Linked DNA regions of Homo sapiens. The protein of the gene in region 1 purifies or fractionates together with the protein of each later gene. This does not show direct contact. Each region holds a gene or a part of one and is shown in the gene's direction. Other genes may lie near its edges.

The links. The genes of interacting proteins can lie anywhere in the genome.
Region 2: the proteins of TMEM8B (region 1) and ARHGDIB purify together in Homo sapiens (affinity purification with mass spectrometry; one large-scale study listed by BioGRID and IntAct). This does not show direct contact.

The regions. Positions count from the first base shown.
Region 1 is NC_000009.12:35,842,728-35,846,227, forward strand, and holds part of TMEM8B (transmembrane protein 8B), read left to right. Parts: intron 1-637; coding exon of another isoform or gene 638-673; exon of another isoform or gene 674-804; intron 805-2,980; coding exon of another isoform or gene 2,981-2,986; exon of another isoform or gene 2,987-3,069; intron 3,070-3,080; coding exon of another isoform or gene 3,081-3,158; intron 3,159-3,247; coding exon 3,248-3,341; intron 3,342-3,500. UniProt on the Homo sapiens protein: May function as a regulator of the EGFR pathway. Probable tumor suppressor which may function in cell growth, proliferation and adhesion.
Region 2 is NC_000012.12:14,958,802-14,962,908, reverse strand, and holds the start of ARHGDIB (rho GDP-dissociation inhibitor 2), read left to right. Parts: upstream 1-1,307; 5' UTR 1,308-1,372; intron 1,373-1,628; exon of another isoform or gene 1,629-1,755; intron 1,756-4,107. UniProt on the Homo sapiens protein: Regulates the GDP/GTP exchange reaction of the Rho proteins by inhibiting the dissociation of GDP from them, and the subsequent binding of GTP to them. Regulates reorganization of the actin cytoskeleton mediated by Rho family members.

The DNA.
Region 1 (3,500 bases):
TGGAGAGTGGGGAGGTTGCTCTGCCAGGGAGCTTGAAGGGGAAGGTGTCAGGGGTGTTGGGGTGTTTACCTCCTCCAGGAAGCCTGTCCAGGTTGCTCCCACCCATCCTGACAATTAGGGACCATGGCTCAGCCCAATTCTGGTCAACAAACATGTCCTGAGTATTCACTCTGCTACAGATGGGCGGGTCAACCAGGTCAACTCAGTGTCTGGGGTTTCCCAGTTTTGTAGGCTCACTTCCTGCTCATTACTGGCCTTTCACTACGGTAGTTGTTAACCTTTTCTTGCAAATCTCCTTTGATGGGGAGTTTACCACCTCTTGAGGCCACACAGTTCATGTTTGGATAGCGCTGATTGCCAAAGGCATTCCTGACATCCCATCAAAATCTGTCTCCATGAATTTTTTACCCACTCATCTTTGATTCAGTGGGTAAAAGCCATATCCAGAAGCCATTTCCAGTAAATCTATCTCTGTCCTGTTCTTTTTTAAAGCAACAGACTTAATTTTTTTTAGAGCAGTTTTAGGTTGAGCAGAAAGCACAAAGTTCTCATATACCCACTCTCTCACGTTTTCCCCTATTATTAATATCTTACATTAGTATGATATATTTATTACATCCCAGTCCTATTTTTACAGCCCTTCAGATGTTACCTGCAACCACCCAAAAGCTGAAGAACCTCAGTGTCTTAGGGGTCTTGGTATTTGGATCTCTCCCCTTCCTTCACTATCTCACCTGGTCATACTTCTAGTGGTCACTGTGTCTCTGAAATAAGTGATCTGAGGTGGTCGGACCGGGGTACCAGGTAACAAGACTTGCATTTGTGCTGCCTGAGATTGAGTTGCCTTTTTCAGCAGCTGCATTACACTGTGGGATCACCTAGGGCTTGTGGTGAACTGAGATCCCTGGGTCTTTTCCCTTTACTTCCTTTGTATTTTCTTCAAACCAGTTGTATACATTTACTTTTTTATTATAAGAGTAATAGGATCACATAAAAACTTTGGAAAATAGGGGAAAATATCTCCCTAATGCAACTGTTTAACCCTTTTTTTTTGAGACGGAGTCTCACTCTGTTGCCCAGGCTGGAGTGTAGGGGTGTGATCTCGGCTCACTGCAACCTCCACTTCGCAGGTTCAAGTGATTCTTGTGCCTCAGCCTCCAGAGTAGCTGGGATTACAGGAGTGCACCACCACACCCAGCTAATTTTTTGTATTTTTAGTAGAGACTGGGTTTCACCATGTTGCCCAGGCTGGTCTCAAACTCCTGGACTCAACTGATCCGCCTGCCTCGGCCGCCCAACATGTTGGGTTTACAAGTGTGAGCCACTGTGCCTGGCCCACAGCTGTTTTTGGTTTATGTCCTCCCATGTCTTTTCCACATTAATTACTTTGTTTATCTAGTTGTAATCAAGGGGCATATACATTTTGGTGCCAATTCGCATCTTGCATTTTTGCAGTGAATTTTTGAACCTGAATGGAAGAATTTATGTCCCTCCTTGAGGTATTGCCTAATACTGGTTTGGAACTCGGGCCTTCTCCACTTTGTGTAATTCACACACTTGCAAAGCCAACTTTTTGTACTTCTTAGTCATTACTGTCAGCGTTAAGACTGAGATGAGGGCGGAGCCCTATGTTGGCCCATTAGAGAATATCTTCAGCTTAGCTGTTCCCTGAGCCAGGGATCCTTTTAACTCTACTATCCTCCAGCCCTGAGAGCAGGGACCGCTTTCCCATCAGCCAACCTGAGGCCTGGTCTGTGGCTTCATGTGGTCTTTTATGGGACACGGCTTAGAACTTTCTAGTCGTCCTGTTAGAGCCATTTATTCAACCTGAAGATATTTCTTATTTACATAATCAAATTCTCTCTTTGTTCTAGCTAAGACTGTATGTATTTTGTGTTTGCTTATTGCCATGCCTCTGGGCAATGACAGTGAGATCTTGATTCGACCTTGAAACCGTAGACCCTGAATTAGAGGACAGCCTTACGCATACTTGTTCTTTCTTCCTCAGTACCCTGAGAATAGAAGCCTAGCCCTCCTGCAGCCCCTCACCCTTTCCCTCTCTGCATTCCCATCCATTCACTTTAATGAGCATCTGTTTACATTCCATCCATCTGCATTCTATGACGCGTGCTAAGCACCTCAGCCTGTTCTGTTTATTCTGAAAGGTATTTCCTCCAAATATTTTGATTTTTTTTTCTCCCCTTGGATCAAGAACTGGACATTTGGATCAGAGAACTGCATATACTTTTTTCTTTGGCTCCCTCCTAGAAAGACTTTCACTGAGTAATACTTTGGCATATTGCCCCGGGCTTGCATTGAAGGAAGTTATATAAGGAAGTTGTATGAAACTCACTCTTGTGGCTGAGGACAGGATGCATGACAACACACAGTGCCGCTTTGATGAGAATTTATCTCAGAACTTCCCCTTTGGATGCTGTGATTCTCCAGAGACTCTGATTAGCTTTTATATTATGTAGTTGCAAATCTGGTAACTCATGATACTTCCTTTGCTTTGGTTGCTTGGAAGGCAGTATCAAATATATGGCCTACCTTAGGGACAGACTTTATTTTCCTGTCCTGATTTTTAAGTTTCCCTCAGGCATTTATTATATTCTATTTTATGTAAGCTGCCTCAAATCCTTCTTGAATGAGGTGAGCTTATGGCATCCTGTTGCCTTTATTCTTGTAGACAACACCTTACATTTACTCTTGCAGATATCTGGTTTCTTTTAATCCCAGCCAGGTTGCTACATTTAATCTCTTGGGCATTCTGTTACCACTGTTCAGTACCTAGGATCATTTCACCTGAGTTGGAGTGAGTGTCTTCATGCTCCACCTGTCTTGGGGTCCAGGTGAAGATGATGGGAAACCTTACAATTGCCTTTGTCCACAATTAGTTTCTATAACTGGCAACAGCCCTCCTTCTCCTTAATGAGCTAGATAGGACTGAAAAAGAGGGTGTTCTCTCTTGCTTGGACAGAATTGAAACACTTCTGCCCAAAGAACAGATTCAAAATTGGGCCTTGCCGTCTCATCAGTCCTTGAAAGATTTCTGCTGTGGAGGATCTGTTGTTTTTCAGTTTTTCTGTTCTGAGAATGGAGGTGAGAGAGCAGCTTTGGCGTGGAGAGCGCCGGGAGGAATGGGCTGTCCTTGGAAGGTGTGGGTTAACAGGGGTGGGAGTCTGAGGGTGGCGGTGGGTGGAGATGGAGGATGTGGCGGCCTCACTTCCATACCTGCCCTCCCCAGAGCTCCGTGCGCCAGGAAAACGTGACGGTGTTTGGATGCTTGACTCACGAGGTGCCCTTGAGCCTGGGGGATGCAGCAGTGACCTGTTCCAAAGGTGAGGTGAGGAATGGGGGAGGAGAGGAAGCTGCAGTGTGGGGGTGGTGGTGGCGGGCAGAGGTGAAGGTGGGGAGGGATGGAATGGAGGAATGATAGGCTAGGGTTCCGGGAAGTGGGAGCAGGTGGGTGAGGGTTCTTGGGTTCTGACCCCTCCTCC
Region 2 (4,107 bases), on another chromosome or scaffold:
GGTGCAGAGCTATAGAATGTGTAAGTTACTGCCTTCTGTGTAAATTAGGGTTTGCTTTGTTTTTACAATAAAGTTATGTACATTGTTTCAAGGGCTGTATTCTGTCTATGCTATTTTAAAATTTATAGAATAAAGTGGTATTAGGCTTTTAGTATTTTTGCTCATTTTAATTATATACTATTTTCCTTTTCATATTTTTCTAGGCTAATCTCTTCTCACGTGAAATGACTCCCTTGATTATTCCGATTTCATTGACTCTAAGTAGAAGGCAAACCCTGTGGTATCAATTTACAAAGGGAAATGAAGAAGATGCAGTACATTTAGGTGAAAACAAAATAAACGTCAGTTTCTCCAAATTTGTGTGCTTAGTCAGATCTAAATATATTGATGTAGTGTAAATACTGAATATTGAAATATTAACCTAAATAAGCATTTATTATTGGTAACAGCTACGGGAATATACAGCATGAATGTGACTTGGCTGCTTAAAAACTGTTCCTCAGATGGTTTAAACATGGCCTCCGAGACTTGTTCCCATTTAAATTACTTCATAAACCATTTCCTCAAATATGGTACAAAGTCTATTTTGGCACTTGTTAAGTTGTCACAAATTCTGAGTTGGAAGACTATGAATTAATGAAGTTTTACTTCCTTTTGTAATTTCTTTCCTAGGTTTCATCAAAGACAGTACTTTCGCTTGCTTGTTTGTTTCATTTGAAGAAAAATCAGCCAAAACTATTAAAAACAATATTTGACTGTTTGTAGTGCAATACAAAGCTACGTCTTGAAATTATAACCAACAAAACTCCAAAAATCTGTTTAAGGACACATTTTTAAATTTAGGACCGTAGTATATGCAGTTAACAATCATCATTTCTTAGCACTCTACATTCACTGCCAGCAAACTTTCAACGTATCTGGTTGATAATGAAGCTGGCGGGGACCCAGTGGGAACAGAAGTGAGTGGTACAAAGTAAAGCCGATGTGAATTTATTGCTACTGGTTTCAGGCTCCTTACCTCCATAGGCTTATGCACTGCAATGACCTGATTATCAGAAATACCCTCACAATTATTCATAATACCCATAGCTATAGGCTCCACACTCTTGCGTGTACATTCATGCATCTCCACGTCACACGGGCTGTCATGCTCGCACATGTGCCATTAATTGACAAGAATGCTGCTCAAGTTGGCTGATCAAGAGATAGGCAGTGCAAAGGAACAGGATTTGAGACAGCCCAGGGTTTCCTCTTCAAGTAGGTCTAAAACATTTTTTTTTCTCATTGACTTCCTTCCTGTTCTAACTGCCAGTACTCAGAAGTCAGAGTTGAGAGACAGAGGCACCCCGGACAGAGACGTGAAGCACTGAATGTAAGTTCAAATACCTCGGGCTGGGGAGGCTTCAGGTGGGCACAGAGCAAAGTCGGAAACCTCTAGACGGGGCTACCGCCCTCGACAGTTTATTATTTTTTTAGAGGGGCAGTTCTTCTTTAAAACAAACTTTATGATAAGAAATTGCTAAGGAGGCTGCAGAGAAGGGGAAGTTAGAGGAGGGAAGGGTAGCAGTGACTCAGGGGAGGAGGCTTAAAAAAGGAGGGTACAGGGTGCGCTGCAGCCCAGGAAGTGCAATCCTGAATATTCTCAGAAGGGCTCTGAGAACACGCACCGGGAGTGCCTGGAGGGGTTTCCTGCAAAGTAGGAGCAGGCACCTGGCCAGGCTTGGAAGAAAAAGACTGTAGATCCAAAATGATACGGTCTGTGCTGGTGGATGGTGGGTTGTGCTGGGGTGGAGATATGTGGTTTCCTGTTTTTAAGCAGACAATGTAAAAAGACTGGTTGAAAGAGAAAAAAAAATGGTTCAAAGCTGTCAAATATTAAACTGTCTTCCACTAAATAATTTTCTGGTGATATAAGAGAAATGCATAATGAAATCCTCCCTTAGAGTGCAGGGGCTTTATCCCTCAAAGAGGAAGTATGGTATAGCACATTGTTATGTACTCATGAGTCATACAGTGATAGAATTTCTACCACTGACAAAGGCTGTGTATTAAATTCCTGCAGTCGGATGGGCAGATCTTTGCTGTTGTTGTCAAAAATAATAATAGGGCTGGGCGTGGTGGCTCACGCCTGCAATCCCAGCACTTTGGGAGGCCGAGGCGGGTAGATCACCTGAGGTCAGGAGTTCAAGACCGGCTTGACCAACATGGTGAAACCCCATCTCTACTGAAAATACAAAATTAGCTGGGTGTGGTGGTGCATCCCTGTAATCCCAGTTATTTGGGAGGCTGAGGCAGGAGAATCACTTGAACCCAGGAGGCAGGGGTTGCAGTGAGCCAAGATCACGCCATTGCACTCCAGCATGGGCAACAAGAGCGAAACTCTGGCTCAAAAAATAAAAATATTAATAATGATAATAGCCCTTTAGGTATGAGATAACTAACAGCAAACATGGAAAACACCAAATAACGTATTAAGAGACAGGTTTGAGAAAAATTCAAGGGGGCCCAGCTAGGACAGCTGATCAGTGGGCCTTCAAAATGTCAAGGTCTGAATTTCAGCCACCATTAGGAGAAGTGCTTTAGGTATGACCTGAAATACTTTCTTCCCTTTTAGAGGACTTCCCAGCCAGCATGTTTCATAAACATAATCTGTAATTAAACTCTAGACCTATGGTAACTTGAGGTGTGTGTCTGGCAAGCCCTGGGCAGTTCTTCATTCAGAGTGGGGAAAGGCAGACTGCTCTCACCCGGAGGGCTCATGGTCACCACTTCACATGGAGACCTAGAGCCCCTGGAGTCAGGGTTGGCCTGGCCATCTTCACTGCAGGGATGGTCAGGCACAGGAGATCAAGAGGACCATGGCACCTGTTGGTCCGGAGAGACAGGGGGCAGAGGTCCAGTCCCTAGCAGGCATCGTGAATCTTGCCATTGGCTTTGTGTTTTTTTAATTTGTAAGAATATATTCCCTCCCAAAGCAGATATAGCACAAGCTTAGTAACAAGAGCATCTTACTCTTTTGTGAGATGTGTGAAATTCTAAGAGACAGTTCTTTCTCCATCCATGCTTCACAGATGCAAAACCTGAGGACTAACTATGCTGTCACTGAACAGAAACTGGCAAGCATTTTTCAGGCCTCGACTGGAATTTGGTCCTTCCTTGCTTTGGAGAGCATGAGTTTGTCCCCTAGGGAAGTTAGCTCTGAGCAACATTAAGGTTCTGTTTTCAGTAGACACTCAGCACCACAAAGTCATTCTGAGGGAAAGATACGGGTCTGAGCTGATTTGGGAGAGCACAGTACATGACAAACATCAGCTAGCAGGAAAAGAGAAGCCCTGGGGAGTCGAAATTATGCAGATAGAAAAGGAGAACCAACATTCATTGAGTGCCTTCTATGTGTCAGGCCTGGTGATAAAAACTTTCAAATTTTGTTCCTGAGAAGAATGCAGAAGTGTTCAATAATTTGACTAAAATTACATACTGATACAAAAAGGATCAATAGCCACAATGCCTCTGAATTGCAATTCACAGGGCATGGTGGTGCGTGCCTGTGGTCCTACCTACTCAGGAGGCTCACGTGATCCTCCCGCCTCAACCTCCCGAGTAGCTGGGACTATAGGCGCGCATCACCACGCTGGCTAATTTTACCATTTTTAGTAGAGACGGGGTTTCTCCATGTTGCCAGGGCTGGTCTTGAATTCCTGGGCTCAAGCAATCCGCCTGCCTTGGCCTCCCAAAGTCCTGGGATTAAAGGCGTGAGCCACCATGCATGGCCTATTATTATTTTTTTGAGACAAGTCTCACTCTGTCACCCGAGCTGAAGTGCAGGGGCGTGAACGCAGCTCACTGCAGCCTCGACCTCCTGAGGCTCAGGTGATCTCCCACATTCTTTAGGAAGAATCACATGGAAGAAATTTTCTCCAATTCCATATTTTGAGAGTTCTTATTCCTGGTTTGTGTTATTGCTGCCCGGGATCCTGTATTCAAGGCTACACTGGCATACCCAGAGATGAGTCTCATGTTGCCCCTGAAACGTCAGCAACATTTATCTGTGCAATAAGCACATCCTGAATCATCCTGTGTTGTGTTACTCTCTGGTGTCCACAGCCA